2 separate regions of the Homo sapiens genome follow, and region 1 is linked to region 2. A link means that fine-mapping ties the variant in region 2 to the expression of a gene that starts in the linked region. Tissue or cell type: whole blood. Region 2 holds a variant in brackets; the other region holds the start of a gene. All regions are shown on one strand. Distances are from middle to middle.

What was found. PIP is the estimated chance that this variant, and not a neighbour inherited with it, causes the effect.
Region 1: it holds the start of SCN4A, and the variant in region 2 is fine-mapped to the expression of SCN4A in whole blood (TOPMed, PIP 0.97).

The regions. Positions count from the first base shown.
Region 1 is chr17:63,969,682-63,977,681 of GRCh38, reverse strand. It overlaps SCN4A (sodium voltage-gated channel alpha subunit 4), which reads left to right and starts at 4,764. Exons shown (of 24, transcript NM_000334.4): 1 at 4,764-5,113; 2 at 5,212-5,330; 3 at 5,457-5,546; 4 at 5,832-5,960; 5 at 6,429-6,520. The coding sequence starts at 4,841.
Region 2 is chr17:63,993,867-64,001,980 of GRCh38, reverse strand. It overlaps PRR29 (proline rich 29), which reads right to left and starts at 3,630. Exons shown (of 6, transcript NM_001164257.2): 1 at 3,557-3,630; 2 at 3,199-3,274; 3 at 2,907-3,013; 4 at 671-897; 5 at 444-514; 6 at 1-248. The coding sequence starts at 3,616. The coding sequence ends at 220. PRR29-AS1 (PRR29 antisense RNA 1) reads left to right here and starts at 2,082. Exons shown (of 3, transcript NR_126169.1): 1 at 2,082-3,656; 2 at 4,059-4,216; 3 at 4,718-5,910. RefSeq lists an enhancer at 2,467-3,444 and a silencer at 3,698-3,747. The variant G/A (reference allele first, on the strand shown) is at 4,241.

The DNA of each region.
Region 1 (8,000 bases), 24 kb after region 2:
GAACAGTGGAAGATGCAAACGTCTGATTGCAGTTGGGAGGGTGTGAGCCATCCCGGTGGAGCCGTCTGGGGGCAGTTGAATATACCAGCCTGGACGTCAAGGGAAACGTTTATCACATTCCCATGACATTACTATTATTTTATTCATGAACTTATTATTTTATAATTAATTTATTATTTTATTGTATTTATTGATTTTTAGAGACACGGTCTTGCTCTATCGCCGAGGCTGTAGTGCAGTAGTGCAATCACAGCTCACTGCAGACTCCACTTCCGTGGGTTCAAGTGATCCTCCTGCCTCAGCCTCCCGAATAGCTGGGACTATAGGCACACACCACCGCACCCAGCTAATTATTTTGTTTTTTGTGGAGACAGGGTCTCACTATGTTGCCCAGACTGGTCTCCAATTCCTAGGCTCAAACGATCCTCCCACTTTGGCCTTCCAAAGCACTGGGATTACAGGCGTGAGCCACCGTGCCTGGCCCCATGACATTATTTATGGTCATAGGAATGATGCCACCCTGAACCAGCTCGAACCCTGAAAAACATTAGAGATTGGGGACAGAAATCAGGACAAGCAGAGGAAAGTGATACGGAGCAGCCAGGGATGTGGAAGGGAAACAGCAAGCAGCTTCCATGGAGGCTGTGAGAATCAGGTGCTTCCAGAAAGGGGCTGTGGCCAACTGGGCTGCATGCTTCTGAGAGGCTCTGGGAGCTGAGGACAGAAGCGTGTTCACTGGACTTGGCAGCAGGGAGGGTGTTAGTGACTTGACAAAAGTAGTTTCAGTTGAAGGGGAAACGGAAGCCAGGTTGGAATGGATTGGAGAGAGAATGAAAGGTAAGGAAGTCAAGACAGCTGGTGTAGACACTTTCCAAGAAGTTTTACTGTGAAGAGGAAAGAAAAATAGGGCAATAGATGCAGGGAGGTGTGGGGCCAGGAGAATAGTTTTGTCACCACTGCCATTGTTTTTAAAGTGGGGGACACTAGAGTCTGTTCACAGATGGGGAGAGGTGGATGGGCAGTAGAGAGAGGGCACCTGGAGAGGTCTTTGAGAAGCAAGAGGGGCTGGGGTCCTGAGCCCCAGGAAAGCCTGACCCTTGCTTCTTATTATTATTCTAACAGGATAGAGGAAGACGGGGTGGGATGGGGAGATGGTTCTGTGGATTTGACAGTGTGTGTGTAGTGGTTCTTCCTTCCTCAGGGAAGACCATCAGCTGGGAGGCTCATGGGGAGGAGCGCGGAGGTCTGAGGAAAGAGGAGAAGGCATGAAATAGTTGTTTTCAAAAAGTGGAAAAGTGAGCCTACCAGAAAAATCCACACTACAGGGCTGGCAGGATTGAGGACAAACCCAGAATATGTGACCATGAATTTACGGTGAGCTCAGCCTAGTCATACCATTTCCCCAGCCACATTTCTCCAGCTCGGGGCTGACTTTGGAAAACCAGAGCTGGGGACATGCAGTTAGGGGTTCCCCAGGACTGTGTGATAGAAGGAGAGAGATCCCTCCTTCTGGGATCTCTCCCTGGGAGCTGTGGAGGAGGGACCAGAATGATGATCTTCTAAGTAAGCCTAGATGAGGAGGGACATGAAGTCAGAAGCAGGTGGAAAGGGAGAAAGTGCAGGGTCAAAGAACTGAAAGTGCCCAAAGATTATAGCAACCGGGCCCCTGAGCCAGGAGCTGAGAAGGTGGCAGGGGCAAAGGAAGAGTTTGAAGTGGTGATTTCAGAGGAGATATGGTTTCTGGTTATGATTTAGGTTCAGGGTATGCTTAAAGGAGAAAAGAGCTAAGGTAGAGTGTCCCTGTGATTCACTCACTTATTCATTTGATAAACTTTTATTGAGCTGGTGACACAAACAAGGGGAGAGTTCCACCCAGCCAGGGTACCCAGGGAGGGCTTCCTGGAGGAGGTGGTTCTTGTGTGGGTTGAGTCTAGAAAGATGAATGGAAGCTCTCCAGGGAGACAAAGAAGATGGGTGCTCTGGGAGGAGAGCAAACCACAAGCAAAGGCATGGGGGTTAGGGCAGGGGGGTGGAAAACAGCTTGGCCCATTTGTGAAAATGGAGGTAGCATGGCCAGAGGATGCGGGAAGGGTAGGCAATGAGGCAGGGATCTGATCATGGAGGGCCTTGGGAGCCCTGGGTAGGGCTTAGGACGTACTCCTAAGCAGTGGAAAGCCATTGAAGATTTAAGCAGGGGGTGAAATTTGTGACTTTACAAATATTTATGGCAGTCTAGGGGAGAGCCTGGTGGGAGGTGTTTCTTTGGTTGGTTTTTGAGACAGGGTCTCACTCTGTCACCCAGGCTGGAGGACAGTGGCACCATCATGGCTCACTGCAGCCTCGAACTCCTGAGCTTAAGGGATCCTCCTGCCTTCGTAGCTGGGACTACAGGAGCATGTCACCACGCGGGGAGGTTATTTGAACAGAACAGGTGAGGGGTGGAGGGTGGAGAGGGCAGTGACACTGGAGAGGGAGCATCAGTAGGGTGTGGAACTGGCCAGATCTACCACCATGATGCTTCGGGCAGCCACCAACCAAAGCCAGCTTCAGCAAGTGGAACCAGTGAGGACATTCCTCCCCTCACATTACAAAACAGCCAGACCTCAGGGGTAATGGAGGAGTAGGAGAAGAGGAAATTAGGAGGAAGTGAACATTTTGAAGGGAGAGGTGTACGCTGTGCAAAGAAAACAGGCTGCAGAGCAGGCCCCAGAGAAGAAGCATCTTCCAGGGGCAGGGAAGGGGCAGGTCCCAGAGCAGAGCTGGGGAGAGTGGCCGGACGCACAGGTGATGTCCTGCTCCCAAGAAGAAAGGCGGTGTGCGGTGTGGGAAGCTCAGGAGGGCCAGCGGGGAAGAAAACACTGGATCTGTCCCCTGGGGAGCTCTGGTGACTCAGGTGAGAGTCATTTCCTCGAGTGCTGGGGTTGGGAGCCAGACTATGTGTCTGTGGGCTTTTGTGGCCCTACTTGGGCTCGTGTAATGAAAAGAGTGAGCAGTATCAGGACAGGAGGATCATCACAGCAGGGACTGCAGACTGGGTGGGTGCACAGCAGCCCTGGGGTCTCTTCAAGGCCATCTGGCTGGTTGGCGCCTTCTGTGTAGTGACAAGCAGCATGTGGGGGTGTACGTGGAGTGGGTGATGGGGAGGAAGGTGGCAAGGTATATGACAGAGCTGTGAGATGCAACTGGGAAGGTCTGCATGTGGGGTGGCTCCAGGCCGGGTGTGCGTGCATGTGCCTGTGTGTGCAAGTGTGTGCACATGCACGCCCACGCTCACGACAGGGGCCAGTGAGCAGCTGAGGGCAGGGTTGGCAGGAATAAGCAGAGTCATCCCCGTGGAAACACGACTCCCTGGGTGCTGTAAGGAGCAGCTGGGAGCCAGGCACAAGGGCGTGGCCAGCTCTGCCCAGTGGCTCTGGCCTCTCCCTGGCCACCCTCCCCACCTGTTGAGCAAGCCTGAGAAGCGCCCGTGCTGACCAGGGCAGGGGCGCTGCTGCAAGGGTCAAGGCCCACTGGGAGAGGTCCACCCTCAGGTGTGGCTTTGGGGGTCTCTAGGGGTCTGTCCAGGTCCCTGTGGTGCAGGGGTGGCTCCAGGTCTGTCCATGTGGGTCTGGCAGTGGCTGCCTGCAGCTGGTCTGCAGGGGTCTCACTGCAACTGCCTGCTGATGTGGTCATTCCCCCAGGGCCATTTGCAATAAGTGATCCCCCTTCCCTTCCACAGGAATAGGCTCTGGAGGGCTGGGCAGAAGGGGAGAGGGGCCAGGTGGGGCCCAGACCACACAATGCTCACAGGCATCAAAGGCTCCTTGTGGATGCCCCTTCCCCCAATCCAGCTTGTGCTGGGACCACCAGCCAAAAGCAGTCCCCAGGAGCTCTAGCCCTGCCCCCACCATTGGAGTTGTCCATCTCCTTGTCCCTGTGACCTTCCCTGTACGTCTTCTCTTCCACGTTAGCACCTGCAGCTCTCCAGATGCAATGTTCCTCTCCCAGTTCACCCTGCCTGCCCAGTGGGCTAGAGCCCCCAGGGCTGTGGGAGGGAACTGCTAGGAGACCCCTGCCGGGCCCAGGGCCCTTTCTTCTTCCCTCTCCCAGCCCAACACCAAGTACCCCAAAGATCAGGAAAGAGGAATCCACACCCACCCCCATCTTTCTTTTCCCTTCCCTCCAGGCCAGGGATGGCAAACACAGGCAGAGGCACCACGGTCTTCCTCCTTGCGCCCCTGGCAGACATCACTAATCAATCACAGCAACCTTTTTGCACAGAGCCTGGCTGCCACCTTCATGGTCTCCACCTACATCTCCAGGTGGCCAATATCAGGATCCACGTCGGCCCTCAGGGTGAAGTCCCTGTGCCAGTCCCACTTTGATCTAACCCCCCAACCAGGCCCCTCATCCTGGCCTATCCAGAGGTCGCCTGAGCACAGCCAGCTGTGGTTCTCTCTCTGTCCCATTAGGCTGAAGCCACACAGTTCCCGGAGCTTGGGCCCAGGAGGCAGTCGAAGGCACTGGGGTGTTGACCCCAAGTCCCAAGGCCACAAAGAATCTGGTTGGTTTGCCGTCGGTCCTGAGGGCAGCCGCTGCCACTTCTGGGGAAAGTGTGGTGGGGGGGCCAGGGGTGATGCTCTGTGCCCAGCACCTGTGCAGCAGCAGCACCTTGCAGGCACATCTCCCAGTCCTGATAGAGTCTGCACGCCCACCTCCCCGGCTCGGCCACTGGGCAAGCAGGAGGTGAGGAGTGGACGGCCCGCCCAGGGAGGGGCGGCCGCCCAGCACCCCGGGGCTGCGCACTGCAGCTCCCCAGGCCACCCACCACCCTTCTGGTCTCTGAGCCCAGGATGCGAGGATGGCCAGACCATCTCTGTGCACCCTGGTGCCTCTGGGCCCTGAGTGCTTGCGCCCCTTCACCCGGGAGTCACTGGCAGCCATAGAACAGCGGGCGGTGGAGGAGGAGGCCCGGCTGCAGCGGAATAAGCAGATGGAGATTGAGGAGCCCGAACGGAAGCCACGAAGTGACTTGGAGGCTGGCAAGAACCTACCCATGATCTACGGAGACCCCCCGCCGGAGGTCATCGGCATCCCCCTGGAGGACCTGGATCCCTACTACAGCAATAAGAAGGTCTGGGCCTGGGAAGGCTTCCTCTGTCTGTCTGCCATCCATCCATCTGTCTGCCTGTCTGTCTGTCCCTGGGTCTCACAGCCTCTCTCCCACCTTAGACCTTCATCGTACTCAACAAGGGCAAGGCCATCTTCCGCTTCTCCGCCACACCTGCTCTCTACCTGCTGAGCCCCTTCAGCGTAGTCAGGCGCGGGGCCATCAAGGTGCTCATCCATGCATATCCTGCCCAAGATGGGAGAGGCGGGAGGGGTTAGGGATGGGCGAGATGGGGTGCTGTGGCCCAGGAGACCCTCTATCACCTCCCATCCTAGCTGCTTCCTCACTTTCCTTGACCCTGCCCCACGCTGTTCAGCATGTTCATCATGATCACCATCTTGACCAACTGCGTATTCATGACCATGAGTGACCCGCCTCCCTGGTCCAAGAATGTGGAGTAAGTCTCCCTGCTCCCTGAGCTCCCCAGCCCTGGGACACAGCCCATCTCAGGTGTTTGCACCTCTGTGTGGTGCTGCTCTTGTCTTTCAGGGAGACACACTGTCATTGTGACCCTCATCCACACCTTGAGTCCCTGGGGTGGCCATGCTATCACTCGCTAGTGTCCTTAGCCACCTGAGTGGCATATTTCATTTCTGTGTCCCTCCCTTCTGGGGGTCTGTCGTTGCCACACTGACCCCTACCCAGGTGACATGCCTGTCCCGGCCGGCCCTCTCCCCCCCAGGTACACCTTCACAGGGATCTACACCTTTGAGTCCCTCATCAAGATACTGGCCCGAGGCTTCTGTGTCGACGACTTCACATTCCTCCGGGACCCCTGGAACTGGCTGGACTTCAGTGTCATCATGATGGCGTGAGCAGGGGCCCCAGGACATCCTGAGGCTGGGGTGGGTGAGGGGAGGGGGCCAGGCCTTAAAGAGGGAAGCTGCCTGGGCTGAGGGCTGCAGGGGACATCGGTCAGTTGTGCAGATGGGGAGCTGCACAATTCTAGAAGCTGCCATTCTCAGGGTCTGGCTCAGCACTCTCCTGATGGACTCCTGATAATCACATGAGGCAGCCCTGACCCACAGACCCATGGGTCCTCACCTGCTGGGTGAGCCGGGCTATCTTTGCCATCCCCACTCCCCCAGAGCTCCTGCACTGTCCTTCCCAACCCTTGGGCTCCCAGAGGAGCTTTGGGGGTGTCTGCCCTGCCCCCCAGACCCTGTGGTACCCCCAATTTCTTGGGAATCCTCATCCCAGGCCTGGAGGAGCCCTGATTTCTGTCCTACCACCCACCCCAGGCTCTGACAGTCCCCACCCCCCTCCACCCCCTACCCAGGTACCTGACAGAGTTTGTGGACTTGGGCAACATCTCAGCCCTGAGGACCTTCCGGGTGCTGCGGGCCCTCAAAACCATCACGGTCATCCCAGGTACTGGGGAGGTGCAGGGACCCTCTGCCTGAGCTGAGAGACCCCCGTACCATGTGCAGGCCTGGAACCTGACTCAGTGTCACAACACTCCCAGGCTGGTGTTTTTGTAGAACTCACAGCAAAGCCTGGACATACAGGGGCCCACGTGACCAGAGGGCAGATGGGGTCCTACATGGAAGGATGGGCGTTTGAGAGGCAGCATGGCAAGTTGGTTAAGAGCACAGACTCAGCTGGGCATGGTGGCTCACGCCTATAATCCCAGCACTTTGGGAGGCCAAGGCAAGTGGATCAACTAAGGTCAGGAGTTTGAGACCAGCCTGGCCAACAAGACAAAACCCTGTCTCTACTAAAAATACAAAAATTAGCCTGGCATGGTGGTGTGCACCTGTAGTCCCATCTACTCAGGAGGCTGAGGCAGGAGAATCACTTGAACCTGGGAAACAGAGGTGGCAGTCAGCCGAGATCACGCCACTGCACTCCAGCCTAGGCAACACAGTGAGATTCCATCTCAAAAAAAAAAAAGAAAACAAATTAGCTGGGCCTGGTTATGCTCTCCTATAGTCCCAGCTACTTGGGAGGCTAAGGCGGGAGGATAGTTTGAGCCCAGGAGATCAAGCCTGCTATGAGCTGTAATTTTGCCACTGCACTCCAGCCTGGGAAAAAGAACAAGACTCTGTCTCAAAAGAAAAAAGCACAGATTCTGGAGCCTGACTGCCTGGGTTCAATTCTCACCTTTACCACTTCCTAACTTTAACTTTGGGCAAGTGCCTCGCCCTGTCCATGTCTCAGTTTCCTTATCTGTGGCATATGGAGACTCATAGTACCACTCCTTGGATTGTTGTAAGGATTAAATGCCTTAATATCTGTAAGGCCCTCACAGCCCCTGGCCCATGGTTTGTGATATACACGTGTGTGCTCAATAAAATAAGCAGACAGAGCAGAGAAGAGAGAGACACAAAAAGGCTCCATGAGGAAAAGTCCAAGCTCTGAGAGCTCAATTAGGAACACACCAGGCACCTGCTGAGCAATAAGGTCAGAGCAATTCCAAAGTAATGCATCAACAAGCATGAAATCAATAGAATCCGAACATTCAGACCTGCAAAAGAGCATGTGGAGAAACTGGAGATTCTCTCCCAGTAAAGGAGAGAAAGAAAAAGGATAGAGATCAGGCTCTGGGAAGAGGGAAAATTGTTAAATCCTAATATGAGAAAGTACCTGAGGCCAGGTGTGGTGGCCCATACCTGTAATCCCAGCACTTTGGGAGGCCGAGACAGGTGAATCACTTGGGGTCAGGACTCTGAGACCAGCCTGGCCAACGTGGTGAAACCCCGTCTCTACTCAAAATACAAAAATTAGCTGGGCGTGGTGGCATGTGCCTGTAATCCCAGCTACCTGGGAGGCTGAGCAGGAGAATCACTTGAATCGAGGAGGCAGAAGTTGCAGTGAGCCGAGATCACACCACTGCACTCCAGCCTGGGCG
Region 2 (8,114 bases):
AGCTCTTACACAACAGCACAGATCCGGCCCGTCCAGGAACTCATTGGCGTGGGGCAGGGACTGATTTCCCCAGGAGAAGAGGGCCTGGCTGAGGTTGAGGGAGTGAGAAGGACTGCCAGCCATGGGCACCGGGGAGTCGACAAGAGAGGTGCAGGAGGCGGCTCCGGGGCTGTATCCAGAGCAGGAAGCTGGTGCAGTTCCCAGGGCCGGGGTCTGTCCTCATAGGAGGCTCTCGGCATCATAGTAGTCTGGGGAAACAAGAACCTCATCTTGACTCCCTCCTGTCTCAGTGGACCCCAAAGAGGTAAAGGGAAGGGGACAGGCCAGTTGCCTGCAGCAGTGATGTTAGGAAACCCCCAAACCCCACCAGAGGGCACAGGGCCCTCCTGGCCTCCTGATTCACTCCCAGGCCTGGGCCCCGCTGCCCACCACCCCAGCCCTACCTGAAGCCGGGGGTACATCAGCACCCACAGTCCCTGTGGCACTGGGGGGTGGGGGTGGGGGCACAGCTCTCCTGAGATGGGGGAAAGAAAAAGACCCCCATCAGAGGCCCAGGGGTGGCCTCTGGAGTTTCACCCACAAGTTATCTCCACCGACCACCAGCCCCTGCACAGCTCTTCTGCAACTTCCAGCCCAGAGCAGAACCCTGGCAGCACCCAGCCTCACTTACACCTCCCTTTCCCTGGAGGCAGGACAGTGCTGAATCCTGGGCACGTCCTGCAAGTAGGGCTGACAAGCAGGGGTGGGGAAGAAGGGGGCTGGCCAGGGCAGCAGGGCACCCGGGGAGGGCATCAAATAGGGCAAGTAGTGGTGGTGAAACACCAAAGGCCCTTTCTCCCGCACGTCCATCTCCTCCTCCTCCTCCTCAGGCTCTTCCTGTGGAACCTCCAGGTAGACCTGGGGATTGTGCAAAACAGGGAGGGGAAATGAGAATCTACCATCAGGCTCTCCCCACCGCCACTCCTCCATTCCCCTAAGTTATTTCCTCCAGATAGGCTTTGTAAGAATGGCTTGTGGCCAGGCATGGTGGCTCACGCCTGTAATCCCAGCACTGTGGGAGGCCGAGGCGGGCGGATCACAAGGTCAGGAGATTGAGACCATCCTGGCTAACACGGTGAAACCCCGTCTCTACTAAAAATACCAAAAAAAAAAAAAAAAAAATTAGCTGGGCATGGTGGTGGGCGCCTGTAGTCCCAGCTACTCAGGAGGCTGAGGCAGGAGAATGGCGTGAACCCGGGAGGCGGAGCTTGCAGTGAGCAGAGATCGAGCTACTGCACTCCAGCCTGGGCGGCAGAGCGAGACTCCATCTCAAAAGAAAAAAAAGGAAAAAAAAAAAAAGAATGGCTTGTGTAGGCGGGGCGCGGTGGCTCATGCCTGTAATCCCGGCACTTTGGGAGGCTGAGGCGGACGGATCACAAGGTCAGGAGATCGAGACCATCCTGGCTAACATAGTGAAACCCCGTCTCTACTAAAAACACAAAAAAGTAGCCGGGTGTGGTGGCAGGCGCCTGTGGTCCCAGCTACTCGGGAGGCTGGGGCAGGAGAGTTGTTTGAACCCAGGAGGTGGAAGTTGCAGTGTGCCGAGATTGCATCACTATACTCCAGCCTAGGTGACAGAGAGAGACTCCGTCTCAAAAAAAAGAAAAAGAAAAGAAAAGAAAAAAAGAATGGGTTGTGTTTATTGAGCGTTTACTACATGCGGACAACAAATTGTGGAGACATTTACTCCTGTAGCTCAAGGACGTTGAGCAACTTGGCCACCCAGTTGATTCCAGGTGTGACCCCCAGAGCTGGGGCCAGGAGTCCACTGAGCTGTCCCCGGCCTCACCCCCGGCCCCTGGACCCACCTATGTGTCATCACTGAGGACCCAGGGGTGAGGGGTGGCAGTAGCTCCTCAGGGTCTCCTTCTGTCTGGATTCCTTGAACCCCTCTCCGCCTCCTCCGAGCTGAACAACATTCTCTCTCCACCCAGTCCCTGCTTCTCCTGACCTCAGGATGCCCACTATTGGCTGAGTAAGGCTCAGCCTTAGAGCTATATGCACATGCATGCACACACACGCTTGCACACACCCCCACTTGCACACACTTGCTTGCACGCACACACTTGCTTGCACGCACACACTTGCCTTCACAACCCGCTCGCACACACGTGCACGCACACCCTTGCACACGCACGTGAACACACACTTGCACACACATATGCATGTACACAGCCTTGCACACACACACGCATGCACACAGACACCCACTTGCACACACATACACACACACACTCTTGCACACACACACTGCCGCACACGGTTTCCCCCATTCTGTCTCCTGACTCTGCCCCTGCCAGCCTGGATGGGGGACACACCCTTCGCCTCCTCCAAGGGTCAAAATCCTACCTGGCTTTCAAGGGCTGGTTCTAAGATCCTCTGCTCCTCCAAGGAGCCTGTCCCCATCCCCCAACCCTATGTGCACTTGTGCTTTGTACCTCTCCATGTGCCATCACAGCCAACCTGGCTTTGTATCCCTAACCATTCATTTATTCATTCACTCGTTCAACAAATATCAGCTGAGCCCCTACACGGTGTCAGGCACCAGGCCAGACGCTCATGATGCATGGGGCAGGGTTACCAGGGTGCCTACCTTCCTGGAGCCTTAAGTCCAGTGGGGGAGGCACTACAGGGAAACCTCCTTGAAAACAAGACCTCGGTGGTCTGGACTTTGGGGGGTCTCTTCCCCGCCCCAACCTTTCATGGAGGCTGAAACATGACAGATGCCAAACAGCCCCAGCCAGAGAGACGGGCTGGCTTCCTGCTCCTCTGTCTCCCAGTTCTTTTCCCCCCTGAACAGGAACCCCAGGTGGATCCGCATCCCTGGACCCACAGGTGAGCGACCCCGGCGGCCCACCCACACGCACCTGAGGGCAGGGCGAGGCAGGCCGGGGCTGCAGCGCTCCAGCCACCAGGCGACTCAGCAGCAGCTGGTGCATCTGCGCGTTCTGCAGCATCATCAGTTCCAGCAGGTCTAGGAAGCGGGGTTCAGCAAGCCCACGCCGGGCCTCCGAGTCCCCCTCCCCCTGACACCCCTGTCCCGGGGGTGAAGAATGGGTTGGCGGGTTGTGCTGCGGGGACTCCCAGAGGATGTGCGAGGCAGAAGAGGGTGAGTGGTGGTGATGGTGGGGGTGGGGTGGGGGGACCCGGGAGTCTCACCTTCCTTCACGCGGCCTGGCTGCGGGGGCGCAGGTGGGACGGCCCACGAGAGGGGCTGCAGGAAGGTGACCCAGGGCTGGGGGTGTGCGCGGAGTCAGCCAGGTGGGGTGGGGGGAATGGATGGGGACACGTCGCGAGCCCCAACCCCCCCGGCCAGTGGCCTCCCTAACCCCGCAGGGGCCAGGTTCTCTCCTCCCCGCCCCGCGGCCTCCCTGCTCCCTGCCACGCCTCTTCCTCTCGGTTTGGGGCTGTCTCTCCTCGTCCCCCACCCCTCCAGGATCTGGCCCCTCCAGGGACAGCTCCCCACTCTGCCGTCTCCCAAGCTAAGGCAGGATCTGCTCCCGGGCTCAGCCCTCACCGTCGGGACTGCGCTCTGCGGTGGGGAGCGACCCCAGCTTCCGCCCGCCCCAGAGGCCATGGCTGGCGCCGGTTGCCTTGGCGACGCCGAGGACGCCAAGGTCTCTTCCCACGCATGCGCGGAGCCCGCCCGTGCTCCTGGGTCTTCCATCTCCCTGCTCCCTCCTGTCTCCTCCTCCGCGGACTTGGGGTCCCCAGGAGCCCTCCCCCGCCACCAGGAGGCCAGTCTCCTCCCCGGCATGTCCACCTCCCGCCGCGCTGCTCGGGGCTCCCCTCCCCTCCCCTTGCTGGTTCCCAGAACTGGGCCTGGGTTAGTGCGGGGAAGGGGGGTGTGTTTGTTGAGTGAATAAGCGAGTGACTGGGGAGGCTTGGTTTCGGGGTCCCAGAGCCCGATTGACTCAGCTGAAAAGTTCAGGAGAAACAGAGACTTTTGCAGGAGCAGGCTGGGGGCTAGGGCAGACGAGTGAGGAGGACAAAGGGTCTGTTCCCTGTCACTCTGACAGAGAGAGGGGCTTCCTGCCAGGAAAGAGTGGTTTCTGGAGCAGACCAAGGAAGGAAACACCGCCCGAATTCACGGAAGAGGCTGAGGACTCTGGCTGGAAACACGTGGCCGGCTTCTCGCCTCTCTCCTTGCGGCTATTTGCCCTGTTTCCTGGCCAAGGTGAGCCACTGCTCCTCAGACGAG[G/A]AAAATCGTGGTGACTTCAGCACCCGCGTCCCCAGTACTGTCTCCCGTACTGGAAAAGTTACCAAAGCACGCGTTCTTTTGACAGGAAGTTAGCAAGGTCTTCCTTGCTTAAGAACAGGTGAAGGGGGAGATCTATTTCTGCAGCTGTGACCATCCTAAGATAGGCCCCCGGCAGCAGTCAAGGAAAATCCAGACAGGAAGCTGGGCTTAGCACCCCGAGTAGCCCTTCCCCCACTCTCCATGTCAGCTCCCCTTCCTGCCAGTCCTGGAGTAAGAACCAGAAAGACCATTCCCACCTCCTCCTTTGCTCCGTAGTACCTGTCTCTAGGGGAGCAGGCTTGTGGGCATTACTTTACTGTCCCCATGGGTCTTATGGCTTCAACAGCCATTAACAAGCTGAGATCCAGGCACTGGGGTCACAGCCCCCCAGTGAGTAGAACACAGAGATGCCTCTCTCCATCTCCATTCTCATTCCAGGTAGAAAGAGAACAAGCCATTTTGCTCATCATCAACAAACCTTGACCAAGGAAGTGTCTGCGTGTGCAATGTGCCATCTGAACCCTGGAGGCATAAGCAGTATGGTCACTTGTCCCAGCATTGTTGGGAAGTGAAAATGTATCCATGGAAAGAGAGCAGAAAGATAAGACTACGCCCCGGGGATAATGAAAAAGAGAGGACTTGACCGCTGAGGGATGGAGTTCCAAGGAAGTCAGTCCTTGATGGGGCCAAGCAGCAGGGGAAGACGGGCGCTATCAGGCTGGGGACAGAGCCCAAGCCAAGACCCAGGTGTATGAATGGACAGGACCTGAGATGACCCGGTGGGTCAAACTGTCTGACTGTAGAAGAGGAGCTGGGCAGAGAGCAGAGGTCCAGGGACAGGCCAAGGTTTGGAATGCCAAGGTTTGGAATTTAGGCTTGGCCCTGTGGGTAATGGAGAGCTATCAGTGGGTTTCAAGCAAAAGGGAGATACCAAGTGCTGTGGCCAGCCATGTTTCAGGAAGATTGTTCTTGTCCACCTTTGTTTATGTCAACCACATTTAGAAGTAACAAATGTCTGATAGGGGGTCAGGTGCGGTGGCTTGTGCCTATAGTGCCAGCTACTCAGGAGGCTGAGGCAGGAGGATCGCTCAAGCCCAGGGATTCAAGGATGCTGTGAGCTACGATCACGTCACTGCACTCCAGCCTGGGAAACAGGGTGAGACCCAGTTTCTAAAACAAACGAACAAACAAATGTCTGATGGGGATGCATCCTCCCAATAGAATACTATTCAACCATGGATAATGTGGGAATAGAATATCTCTGTTGATGTGAAAAGTTGTCCAAGACAGTTGAGTCAAAAATATCAGTAAGCATAGTAAGATCTTATTTTTGTTTTAAAAATCATATGCATAAGTCCAGGCACGGTGGCTCACGCCTGTAATCCCAGCAGTTTGGGAGGCCAAGGCAGGCAGATCACTTGAGGTCAGGAGTTCGGGACCAGCCTGGCCAACATGGTGAAACCCTGTCTCTACTAAAAATACAAAAATTAGCCGGGAGTGGTGGCGGGTGCCTGCAATCCCAGACACTCAGGAGGCTGAGGCAGGAGAATCGCTTGAACCTGGGAGGTGGAGGTTGCAGTGAGCCGAGATCATGCCACTGCACTTCAGCCTGGGCAACAGAGACTCCATCTAAAAAAAAAAAAAATTCATATGCATATACATGTGTGTATGTACATGTGTGTGTGTGTGAATACACATACACACACACACACAGATCCAACTGTGGAGCAGCTGTCAGAGTTGGCCGACCCGCAGCCTCCCCTAGAGTCTTCTGCAGAGGGTTCCTGCCCTCACCTACAGCCCCTCCACCTGAGGACACCTGGCCACAGGTAAGACAGGCCAGAAGGTGGCACAGGAGCAGCCCACAAGCAATAATGGATGGGAGTTGATAGCTAAACTCGCAGCCTCCTGGTCTCAGTGCGACAACTCTGAGGTGTCTCCCACAGAGCCTCTCAGTGATGCCTGTGGGCTTGTGCCCAGGTGGCCCACAGTGACCTGCTCAGAAACACACACTTTACTGCCTTTTCTCCTCTCCCTGTCCCTTCTCCACTCTCTCGTAGTGCTCATTTGGATCTCCTTCCAAAGAAACGACTGCTCCCCAAGCCTGTGTCAGGGTCTGCTTTTGGGGGATCCCAACGAAGACATCAGCCTCCTACTCGCTCCACATCTGCCTCCAGGCTACTGAAAACTCCTGGAAAAGGGACTTAAGTAGCTCTATGATACATCTGCATTCAGAGATGTGAAATACTGAAATAGACATTGAAGAAAATGAGTTTGGGTGTACAATGGTCAATAGATTCAACTGAAGCAAGGCTGGAGGCAGGGGGCCCAGCAAAGAGGCTGCCACACTTGTCCCTCTAAGGAAGCCTGCAGTGGGCTAGAGGTGGCCGTAGAAAACAGTCAGGAGGAGGTGATCATTCCAATCCCTCAGAGGTAAAAGGGCATGTTAACCGCTTGTGTTTTGAAAAACAAGGCTGAGATCAAAACTATCTGACTTATGGTATTCCATTCGATGTATTTGTCAAAAGAAACGGAAGCATTTGCCATGAAGAAAGGAAAGCCACACACTTATCTGCCTGAGCTATTTTGCTCATAGAAGATCTCACATCAGCGCAGCAGAATAGGAGATGACTTACTTTCCTGCTATTTGACTTGCCTGCTATTATTTTCTTTGAGACACTGAACACTCCACCTATTTCTTTTTTATTTTCTTCTCAATAGGAACTCTTGTTGGCCTCTTTGGATTATTTTGTTTTTCAGATTTTTTTTTTTTTTTTTTTTTTAGTGATCCAAGACAATATGTGCTAAAAGTCCTCCCCATTGCCTTGGTAAATCTATTTCTGGGAATAAGCTAAACATAGGAGAAGATTTATACTAAAAAATGTTCATCATAGTGTTATTTTTAAAGGGTTAAAAATTAAACATTTGGCAGGACATGGTGGCTCACGCCTGTAATCGCAGCACTCTGGGAGGCCGTGGCAGGTGGGTCATTTGAGGTCAGGAGTTTGAGACCAGCCTGGCCAACATGATGAAACCCTGTCTCTACTAAAAATACAAAAATTAGCCAGGCTTGGTGGCGGGCACTTGTAATCCCAGCTACTCGGGAGTCTAAGGCAGGAGAATTGCTTGAACCCAGGAGGTGGAGGTTGCACTGAGCTGAGATGGTGCCATTGCACTGGGCGACACAGTGAGACTCTGTCTCGAAAAAAAAAGAAAAAGGAAAAATTGAACATTACCCAATGTCTAATAATAGGGGGATGGTTGAGTGAATTAAGGCAGTTCACTCAAAAGAATATTGTGCCATTATTAGAAACCATGGAACTGTGAAAATAAGCTACCTCCTCTTTTCCTCAGATGGAAATGGAGAGAAAAGGGCCCTTTCTAAGAATTCAAGTGGAAATTTCAAAGCTATTTTTGGCACAGTTGAGGAAGCATTGTTGAGAGAGTGACCCCAGCAAATCAGCCCTTTCCTTGGGTGCAGTTCCTAAAGATACACAAATTGGAAGGAGCTGCAATATCAAAGTTGAAGGAAAGGAACTAAGTATTGCTCTGCAGAATTATGTTATTGACTGGATATGCAGGAGAGAGAGAATCTTGAAAATTCAACAGTGAAGAAACCTCAACTTTCTGCCTAGAGGCTCTAGCTGCACTGTTTCTGCAAATTATGGTTATCCTGGTGAGATACTCGGGTGTGCTTTTGTCCAACAGACACCTGCAGGTACTCTGAGGACTTACAAGTGAGCGCATTGCATAGGTGGGATGCCCCGTGATGGGGACCTGGCTTTGAGGTCCCACTCCATTGGAACTGCACTGTGGGGTGGAGTACCAGAGCCTC